2 separate regions of the Homo sapiens genome follow, and region 1 is linked to region 2. The links come from fine-mapping of genetic effects on plasma protein levels. A gene starts in region 2. The other region holds a variant in brackets. All regions are shown on one strand. Distances are from middle to middle. Region 1 overlaps PAFAH2 (platelet activating factor acetylhydrolase 2). Region 2 holds the start of PAFAH2 (platelet activating factor acetylhydrolase 2).

Evidence for each region. PIP is the posterior inclusion probability: the model's chance that the variant is causal. Protein levels are from antibody-based Olink assays in UK Biobank. Linkage for the fine-mapping came from a reference panel and not from the study's own genotypes, which makes the PIPs less certain.
Region 1: its variant is fine-mapped to the plasma level of the PAFAH2 protein (UK Biobank, PIP 0.98). The variant lies in the coding sequence of PAFAH2. If it changes the protein, the assay may bind it differently, which can mimic a change of level.

What each region holds. Positions count from the first base shown.
Region 1 is chr1:25,971,705-25,977,016 of GRCh38, reverse strand. PAFAH2 (platelet activating factor acetylhydrolase 2) reads left to right here. Exons shown (of 11, transcript NM_000437.4): 8 at 244-335; 9 at 2,367-2,537; 10 at 4,305-4,459. Among named protein-coding and RNA genes, the nearest start is that of PAFAH2, 24 kb to the left of the region's middle. The variant C/T (reference allele first, on the strand shown) is at 280.
Region 2 is chr1:25,995,740-26,001,113 of GRCh38, reverse strand. It overlaps PAFAH2 (platelet activating factor acetylhydrolase 2), which reads left to right and starts at 3,051. Exons shown (of 11, transcript NM_000437.4): 1 at 3,051-3,089. RefSeq lists enhancers at 2,906-2,955, 2,966-3,055, 3,226-3,305.

The sequences.
Region 1 (5,312 bases), 24 kb after region 2:
AAGTAAACATGAAAAGTGTGATTCTCACAATTCCTGCCTACACAAGGCTGTTCAGTCTAAGGATTGCTTGACTGTTGCCCCTTCCATAGGTAAGAGATTCTTGACAGTGTGGTGTTGGTGGACTCACTTGCTGTATTGTGCCTTTGGCCTCATTGCCTCACTATTTCTTCCTCTTGCTCCTGATGAATTCCTAAAGAAGCAGTCCTGAGTTTCTGACTTGGCTAAGTTCTCCACTTTCCTCAGGGCAACATTGACATGAGCCGTGTGGCTGTGATGGGA[C/T]ATTCATTTGGAGGGGCCACAGCTATTCTGGCTTTGGCCAAGGAGACCCAATTTCGGTGAGTTTCCTAGTAGTGTTGCTGTGCTTAGCTCCATACACCGTTTATTCATTTAGAAAGTATTTGTTACACAAGTACTATATTCTTGGCACTGTTTAGGGACTGAGGATTCAGCGGTTAAACAAGAAAACAAGATCTCTGATTTCATGGGATTATATTATTGTGGGAGGAGACAGACTAGTGAAAAAGCCAACCGATAATAAAATCCCCATGACCAAGTGCAATGAAGAAAAATAAAGCTGAGCATGTTGGCTTACTCCTGTAACCCCAGCGATTTGGGAGGCTGAGGCAGGAGGATTGCTTGAAGCCAGGAGTTTGAGATCAGCCTAGGAAACATCACAAGACCCCATCTCTACAAAAAATTGAAAAAAACAAAACAGCCAAGTGTGATAGTGCATGCCTGTAGTCCCGGCTACTTTGAAGCCTGAGGCAGGAGGATCACTTGAGCCCAGGAGTTCCAGGTTACAGTGAGCTCTGACCGCACCACTTCAGCCTGGGCAATAGAGCAAGATCCTGTCTCAAAAAAAACAGAAAAAAGAAAACAGGCTGATATGTCTCTGAGAAAGTGAAATCAAGACTGGGAAGGCAAAGAAGCCAGTCGTGTGAAGATCTAGAGGAAGATCTTTCCAGCCAGCAGGAATAGCTAATGCAAAGGCCCTGCAGTGGAAAGAAGCTTGCTGTGTTAGGGTGGGAGGAGCGTAGTGAGTGAGGGGGAGGCAATTTAAGCTGTGATCAGAGAGAGAAGCAGGGGCCAGATCACAGGGTCATCTGGCCAGGGTAAGGAGGTGTATATTTTATTCTACGTATGATGGGAAACTGTTGAAGATTTTCAACAGAGAAATATCAGTCTTACATTTTAAAAGATCCTTCTGGCTACTATGTGAAGAATGGATTGTAGCAGGACAAGACTGAAAGCCTAGAGGCTCATTAGAGAGATTCTGTTTCAGAGTCAATGTGAAAGATGATAAATTTACATCAGGATTGAGATAGTGGGATGGAGAGAAGTGATTGGAGTCAGGATATGTCTTAGAGTTTTCAGGATTTGGTCATGTGGGAGGTGAAGGAAAGAGAGGAAATCCAGGTTTTTCTTCTTATTTTTTTCCCTCTGAGACAGGGTCTTGCTCTGTTGCCCTATGCTGGAGTGCAGTGGTACAATCAGCTCACTGCAGCCTCAACCTCCTGGGCTCAAGTGATGCCTCAACCTCTCAAATAGCTGGGACTACAGGTACATGCTACCATGCCCTGCTAATTTTTTAATTTTTTTTTTTAAGAGATGGTGTCTTGCTATGTTGCCCAGGCTGGTCTTGAACTCTTGGGCTCAAGTGATCCTCCTGCCTCAGCCTCCCAAAGTGCTGGGATTACAGGGATGAACCACCATGCCCAGCCCAAGGTTTTTCATTTGTGTATCTATTATTTGAGTGGAAGATGATTGTCCTTTATTGAGATGGAGAAGAATAGAGGAGCATTTCAGGGGTCTGAGGAAGGAAATGGCAAAATCTTAAGGCCCATAATATTGCTCTTGGTGACATGGTTTTGCTGTTGGCACCAAGGAGGCTTTTCCTGACCTCACATAGAACCTTGTGCAATCAGGGCACTAAGTTATATTGTTTTGCCACTTTGTCTATTCTGTCTTCCCTGCTGGACTGGGAGCTCCTTGAAAGCAGGAACACTCATTTATGTCTATATCCAAAGCACATAGTAGACACTCAATGAATGTTGAATGAATGAATAATTAAATGAATGAAGTGCCATTCTGTGGAACTCAGGTCAGTCACCTGAGAGTAGATCCAGGAGAAGAGGGATATCTGATCCTTGTTCTCAGAGAGTTTGAAATCTAGAAGGATCTTTGGTGAAAAGTAAAAGTGATCCCTACCTAAGATCCTGACTGAAGGCCGTGGGCCCTGGTACCCCCCTCCTGGCTTTCTGAGCCTTTACCCCACCAGAGGGAGGAACTCCGCCCTTCCCTCCACCACCCTAACTATTCTTGCCTGGGATCCGCATGGCAATTCCAAATGTCTGGTCCTATTCCAGGTGTGCGGTGGCTCTGGATGCTTGGATGTTTCCTCTGGAACGTGACTTTTACCCCAAGGCCCGAGGACCTGTGTTCTTTATCAATACTGAGAAATTCCAGACAATGGAGAGTGTCAATTTGATGAAGAAGATATGTGCCCAGCATGAACAGTCTAGGATCATAACCGTTCTGTGAGTAAACCACAAGGTCGTGATCCCAGGGCCCTCTCCATTTGCCACTTGCTGTGGTGCCCTTAACTTCTGGATTACCCAAAACTTTCTACCCATTAGTAGGATACCTGAATACTTCCTGAATTGCAAAGTCTAAATTCTTTTAGAATTTTCTGTCTGTCCTTCTTCTCCACTGAGCTCCATCTACAGTGATTTATTCCATAGTTTATCTGACTTTATGACAGGATTTACCTAGTACTTTCTGAAAAAGGGCATTATGGGGTTGGGTGTTGGAAAGGAAGTGGTGTGGGTTTGGATGAGTTCCAGAGATTGCTAGCCTCATTTGGGAATTTTATTGGGTCTTTGGAAGAGTGTGAATATGGTAGACCTTTGATATTCACCAGACACATTTCTAGAGACCTTCATGAATACCAGAATCACAGATCACTGTTAACATATGTTGTCTTCCATAAACCTTCTATATTCTGGTCAAGAGAAGCCACATTTTTTCACTTCCATCATCAGCACTATCAGTTAGTTTTCTTTTGGGAGCCATTTTTCACAGGGAAAAAAACATTTTTAGTGACTTTAAGAAATGTTCCACATGTGGGAGGTGATATTGAGCCACAGATGTCGGGCTGAGATCTCACGGACTGCTCCTGCCCTGCAGTTGAGCCCAGCGGCACACAGGATCCAGGGATCCATCTGGTTCCTATTTCAGCAGAATGACAAGTGACTGCATACCATGGACCTTTGGAGTCACTGGGTAGTTGAAGTGCCAAATCCAGAGCCCTCGAGCACTGGGGCCGGCAGTATGGCCAGTGGCTTCTTCCCTTGCTCATCTTGGTCCTGGCCCTCTTTCCTAGGGCCACCCCTCCTCGTTCAGTTAGGTTTCATGGCAGTAGACACTGCCTGAATGCTTCCCCAGGTCAGATTCAGGAGGGAAAGGAGGTGAGGCCAGTTGGGAAGGGGTACACTCAGGGGACTTAACGCCTGGCAATGTATCGTTTATTCAACTGAGTGCTGGATACTCAAGTATCCCATATATTATTCTATACACCTTTTTGTGTGCCTTAACTAATGCATTTTTTAAAGTCAGTTTTTCTGTGATATCAGACAAATACTTTAGCATTTAGATTCTCTTTCTCTCACTGAATTGACTAGTAAATTCAGTTATGAATAATTTAGCCCAAAATTAACCTAGCAAGGATTTCACCTGCAAATTAAATTTATTTTCTGCCAAAGGACTTAAGTTCCAACCCAGAAACCCCCTTTTACAAAGCACTCACTCTTACTTTTCTGATTGTTTAAATAAAGGCAAGTAATTCCTTTTCCCTCTTCACTCTGTGGTACAGTTCTGAAGAATAACTTCATTTGTTTTGTGAATGTTTGAAATTCACCAGGCAAAAGCCACAGCTAATAGATTGTAGTAACATAGAAATGCCACGTGCCACAGATCCCACCTCCTTGCTCCTGTCCCTGCTCCTGCTAGCTCAACCTTTTCCCTGCACTGCCAGGCATTGTAGTCTACGGGTCAAGCCAGCTTTGAAGCCAAGCACATCTGGCTTCAAATCCTAACTCCATCCCCAACTACTTGTATGACCTGACCCTAAGCAGATAGTTTCTCTCCTTGGATTCTGTCAAGGGGGAAAATACTTCCCTTACAAGGTTGCTGTGAAAATAAAGTGTGATAATACATGAAAAGCACCTTGCACATAGTAGGTGCCTAACACACATCTGTATGCCCTAGCCGCCAGACCCCTGCCAGTTGTTTTTCTTTTCCCCTAGTGGTTCTGTTCATCGGAGTCAAACTGACTTTGCTTTTGTGACTGGCAACTTGATTGGTAAATTCTTCTCCACTGAAACCCGTGGGAGCCTGGACCCCTATGAAGGGCAGGAGGTTATGGTACGGGCCATGTTGGCCTTCCTGCAGAAGCACCTCGGTAAGGAGAAAACTGGGGCTCTTGGGGCAGCTGTGGGGTCCCTTAGATTTCCTTGCAGCAGAGTGAGAACTCTGACATGTCTGGGATCTGGGAAGGAGATTTATGGCAAATGGAAAACCTGAGTGAAGGAGAGACTTACATAGAATTACAGAAAAAACAAGTCCAGGTGCAGTGGCTCACGCCTGTAATCCTAGCACTTTGGTGGGTTGAGGTGGGAGGATGGCTTGGGGCCAGGAGTTCGAGACCAGTCTGAGCAACATAGTGAGACTCTATCTTTACCAAAAAAAAAAAAAAATTAGCTGGGTGTGGTGGCACACACCTATAGTCCCAGCTACTCGAGAGGCTACGGTGGGAGGATCAGTTAAGCCTAGGAGGTCTAGGCTGCAGTGAGCCATGATTGCACCACTGAACTCCAGTCTGAGCAACAGAGCAAGACCTTGTTTCTAAATAAATAATTAAACAAATAAATAAGAAAAAATACTTAACTGAAAGTTTGGAGATCCTGACTATCTTACTTGCAGAATGACCTGGCCTAGTCATTTAACCTCTCTGAACCTTGGTTTCCTCCCTGTAAATGGAGTATTCACCTCTCTCTACTCCACCACCTCTCTCCTTACCCAGACTCATTATTGCCCACCTTATCTGCATTGTAGGGGAGTTTATGAGGATAACGGGCTAAATTTATGGAAGTGTTTTAAAGAAACAAAGCATGGAAGGACTATGAATAATGTCATCAGTCATAGAGCAGCTAAAGGGCGAGGCCTGCAGAGGTCCATGGTCCAGCTTCCACCCAGAGGAGGCATCCTCTTATTAAGCTTTATTGGTTACAAAGACTAGAGGTTCACAAACTTAG
Region 2 (5,374 bases):
TCATCATGTCTGAACACAAACAAAAAATGGATATTGTCCAAACCATGAAAAAGACCAACCCCCCGTCCGTGCTAAAATGAGAGACTGCTGCTTCTTACCTATGACAGCTTTAGCCTTGGTCTAGCCTCCCCTCCTTCTAGATACATTTTATCAAGACCCCCAGTCATAGAATTACCCTTGCTCTTGACAGCATCCAATCCAAAGCCAAGCCCTGCTTCCTTAAACTCTCCCCAGATTGTCTAACAAAAGCCCAAATTCTGTAAATTCTTTCTTCCACCTTCCTACAGAAATGCACCCCCTTTGCCCTTATTTCCCCATTGCCTGCCTTCTCTCTTGCTGCAATGAATAATTAATACAACTTCTTTAATACAGGTGTGTTTCCGGTGGTCTTTGACTGGAATGGCATCGACACAAGTATCAGCTATCAGTGAGCATAAAATGTTATTATCAAAGTTAAAAAATGTTGCTTCTCAAAACTAGTTGATGATAAGAGACGGAAAGTAGTTGTTCCTTCTGGAGGATGGGTGGGGGTGATTGATTACAACTGAGAAGCCAACCTTTCAGGATATTGGAAACGTCCTACATTTTGAAGTAAATGGTAGTTATAGCAAATGTTTTTAAGAAGTTAAGCTGTATACTTTAGTGCCCATTACATACTTTATTGTATACCTATTCTACCTTTATTTTAAAAGTTTTGTCCACTGGTGGTGCGTGGTGGCTCACACCTGTAATCCCAGCACTTTGGAAGGCCAAGGTGGGCAGATTACTTGAGGCCAGGAGTCCAAGATCAGCCTGGCCAACATGATGAAAACCCATCTCTACTAAAAATACAAAAATTAGCCAGGTGTGGTAATGTGCCTGTAATCCCAGCTACTATGGAGGCTGAGATGGGAGAACTGCTTGAACCCAGGAGGCGGAGGCTGCGGTGAGCTGAGATCCCGCCACTGGGCCACAGAGCGAGACTCTGTCCCCCCCGCCCCCCTAAAAAAAAGGAAATCCAAAGCTGGTCACCCAAATACCAACTTGAAGCAATTTAGCAACAAAGTAAAGGCCAGAGTTGGGATGGTAGCTGATAGATTTGAAGGGAACTTTGGGCTACTGGAGGATGAGATCTATGATGAAAATGCTGGAAAATCAACCATTTGCTTAAAAAGGTAAAGGCATTTGGGTTGTTTATCCTAGAAAAGACCGGATTGGAAGGAAGTATAGTTAAACTCAACTGTTTTATTTTGCAACAGGGAAGAATCTGATTGTGCCCAAGGAAGAGCTTCCTAACTGTGACAAAGGAGGTAAAGGAGGTGGTGACATGCCCATCCCTGGGAAATTTTAAACTCAGCTGGCCAGCAAATGGCTCCAGCATGGCCTGGTCTGGGAGTAGGAGACTGAAAGAAATGACCTCCAGCTGTCCCTCTCATGACCAAGGACCTCTGGCTTGTCGTGAGTGTTCTGGCCAGCTGCACAGCACGGATTAATGGGCCAAAGGGAGCCGCTCTCTGATCTGCGCTAAGCTTTTCAGGTTCTGTGGCCACCGCCATCAGCCACAGATTTAATGAGATCCGAGGCTTAATTACCACAGTGCAGGGCTGCCAGCACTCTCTCCTGATGACTTTATCTTGGCTCCTGGAAGGATGGGGGTGACAACAGTGTGTCGGCAGGAGAGGAGAGCCTAAAGCAGGGACTCTGGACCCTGGTGTTTCGGGGGGATGTGGGCTGCAAGAGTAGGGTGGAGGGGGCGACTGCAGGACTCAGTACCTGACCTCAAAGAGCTCACAATGTGTCAAGAGTTAAGACCTCTAATACAGGAGATACCCAAGGCAGTGTGAGTCGACTCACATGTGCGAGGCACACACAGATGTCGGCGGAAACTTTGGAGGCATGAACAAAGCTCCCAGAGGAGGGGCGCTGAAGGGTGGGGGGTGGGGCGTGGGGGAGTGCAGGTTGGAGAAGACCTTGAATGTCAGGCTAAGCAGTTGGGACTTCACTTCATAGGTAGTAGAGGGCCGTTGAACGTTTTTGAGCTGCCTGAACGATCCAAATTTCCTATAGAAGTTTACAGAACTCCTGAGGATGGGCTCTGCCTAACGCCCACTCCCCCGAGAATACTCTCCTTCCATCCCTCACACTTAGCTGCAGCCAGCACTGAACTTAATGCCATACTCTGAAACGTCCTTCACAGTCTCTGTACTCCTGGCTACGTTCTTTCCTTATATCGGGTCTCAATGTTAACAAACATCACTCCCTCTAAAAAGCCTTGCGGACACCGCCCTTTTCCCCCAAGCCTGGCCAGAGGCCCCTTTTCAAGGCTCCCACGCTTGCTGTGTCTCCCCATGAGATCACGGCTCTGTGCTGTCATTATTCATTTGTCTGAATTCTCTGCTAGACTGTGATTCTGTTGAGGCTAGGAGCGGTATCTTGTCCATCAGTGTCGCTAAGAACCAGCATTAGACAGTAATGTGGGATGGATGCGGCCCAGCAGATTACTCGGGTTCCTCCCCTTTCTCTGCCAGGGAGTCTTTTGAGGACAATGGAAAATCACAGGTGTCAACAGATGCAGGCTGGTAGGGAATGTCCCCTTAATTTGAATGATCAGTCTATTATTCTTACAGGAAGCAAAGTGTGCAGAAGACACAAAACAAACTCCAACCTCCTCCCACCTCCTTGAGAATAAAGCGAAGCGGGGACCATTTCTAGGCACGCCTGAGGACTATTTGAGGAGGGTGAGGCGGAGGGTTACGCACGGGACTAAGGCAAAACCCTCCGCTCGAGAGCAGAAATCGCGGCGGCACCTCTTCAGGCCACCAGGGGGAGGAATCACACCGCATCCCAGGCCTTGGGCGGTTTCGCACGACCACGCGGGGCTGGACGGTCGCGTAGAACTCTGGGAGGTGTAGTTTTAGAGTTGTAATGCGCAATCTCGCGCACTGTACATCGGGAATTGTAGTTCTAGATTGAGGAACGAGAAGTGCTTCCAAGCGTCCATTTTGAGCCTTGGAAACTACGACGACCAAAGGGCCACGGGTTCATGGGTCGTTTCTCATTTCCGTCGAGTTAAACGTCTGGGGCTGCTTCTGAGGAATCAGCTTGACTGGGTAAGTTTGATTGGAGAAAACACCTATATCTCAATTGAGCTTCCTGCAGACTTTTGTATTCTGGCCCGGTTTGGGGCCTCGGCGTCTCTCAGTCATAGGAATTGCACATTAATCTTCGTCCTTTACGTTTCCTATTCAGACACCTGTAGCCACCCGCTCCCTTGACCCTCCCACGGTCGCCTCGCACTTTTAACGGCCAGTGCCCCTGGAATCCCCACTGAGCTCCCGTCCCAGGACCCAGCCCCCGCAGCCCCACCTTGGACCCCACAGCCCTACCCTGATTCCTCGGCCCTACCTTCACCCTGCAGCCTCACATCCCTGAACCCCGGGCTTCTTTATGCTCCTCCACCCTTTGTGTACTTTACTCTTACTCTCAGTTTTCTGTTTTTCATGGCGGTGGAAGAAGGGTCCCCATTCCTTCTTTCCGATCCGCGATTACCCTGGACTCGAAGTCAGCAGACCCGGTTCTAGGCCAGCTCTGCCTCTCACCCTCTGTGACCTTGGGCAAATCATACAACTCTGGGACTCAGTTTCTTCCTCTCTAAAACGGAGATGACTGTTGCTCCATCAGTCTCAGGTGAGGAGTGTTGAGGAGCCAACAAGCTAGTATGTGTGAAGATGCCTTGTAAACTGTAAGACCTTCACAAGAGACAGAGATTATTTTTATCACAATTATTAATGCTCTGGAACACTCTTATCAGGCCTCTTCTCTAGCTCTGCCACCTTGTTGCTCAATCTCATCCCTCGAGTGCTTGGTGTCTTCATTGTCTACGAGCTGGATGATATTTCCTCACTTCCTCCAGAGACCAAAGGTCAGGCCAATGAGCTTTTAGTCTTCAGAGAGCTTTGTCTGAAAGGAAGCACAAGAGAAGTGCTTATCTTGGACTGTATCTTGAAATAGCCAGTGATGAAAGTGTCACACAGCTGGCAGAGCAGCAGTCCTCTGCTCACCAGAAACAGGGTCCCAGCAGGAGAGGACAGCTGCAACCTAAGCCCCATCCATTCCCTCTGGGCTCCTCTGGGCCTGTTCAGTAGACACTGGCTTTGGTAGGGGTGTCTGAGGCCTGAAAAGGCTGCTGGGAAAGAATCTGTTTTGCCAAAGGGCTTAATCCAGGAAAAATGAGAGACCTTGGCTAGGAAAGAGAGACATAGCATTGTTAATTAGTTCCTAACATTTTATAAGCACTGAAAATGCACCAGGCCCTAGGCAATATTTTCACTTACGAAGTATCCATTTTACGTATAAGGAACTTGAGAGGCATGTAGTTAAAATAATTATAGTTGCCTCCTATGGTTATAGTACCTTCTATCCATCGAGTGCTTTACATGCATTATTTAATCCTCATCAACAATCTCGTGAGTAGTTACTATTTCTTTTTTTTTGAGATGGAGTCTCGCTCTGTCGCCCAGGCTAGAGTGCAGTAGCGCGATCTCGGCTCACTGCAAGCTCCGCCTCCCGGGTTCACGCCATTCTCCTGCTTCAGCCTCCCAAGTAGCTGGGACTACAGGCGCCCGCCACCAGGCCCAGCTAATATTTTGTATTTTTTTTAGTACAGACAGGGTTTCACCGTGTTAGCCAGGATGGTCTCGATCTCCTGACCTCCTGATCCGCCCGCCTCGGCCTCCCACCGCGCCCGGCCCATAGTTACTATTTCTTTTTGAGACAAGACCTCGCTCTGTCACCCAGGCCGAAGTGCAGTGGCACAATCTTGGTTCACTGTGGCCTCCGGCTCCCAAGCCCCAGCAATCCTCCTACCTCAGCCTCCTGAGTAACTGGGACTGCAGTTGCATACCACCACATCCAGCTAATTTTTTTTTTTTTTAATTTTTTTATAGAGACAGGATTTTGCCATGTTGCCCAGGCTGGTCTTGAACTCCTGGGCTGAAGCAATCCTTCCCATTTGATCTCCCAAAGTTCTGGGATTATAGGCATGAGCCACTGCGTCTGGCCATAGTTATTATTTCTGTTGTGAGAATAAATTATCAGAAGCTTAGAGTTTGAGGAACTTGTTCAAGATCACACAGCTAATAAGTGACAGGGGTAGAATTCAGAGTCATCAAAACCTTTGTCCCCCATTATTTCATATAGCCTTATTTTTAGATCAAAAACAAAGATTAAAGAAGACTTGAGATGGGTTTAAATCATAGCCAAATGAAGGAACATTTATTGAGTCCCAACTATATGGGGAAAGCATGCAGATAGACAGTTTGGTCTACAAAAAAATATAAAACCCAATCTTTACCCCCGGAGTAGATCTGAAGAGATGAGGCATAAGTGTGCCAAA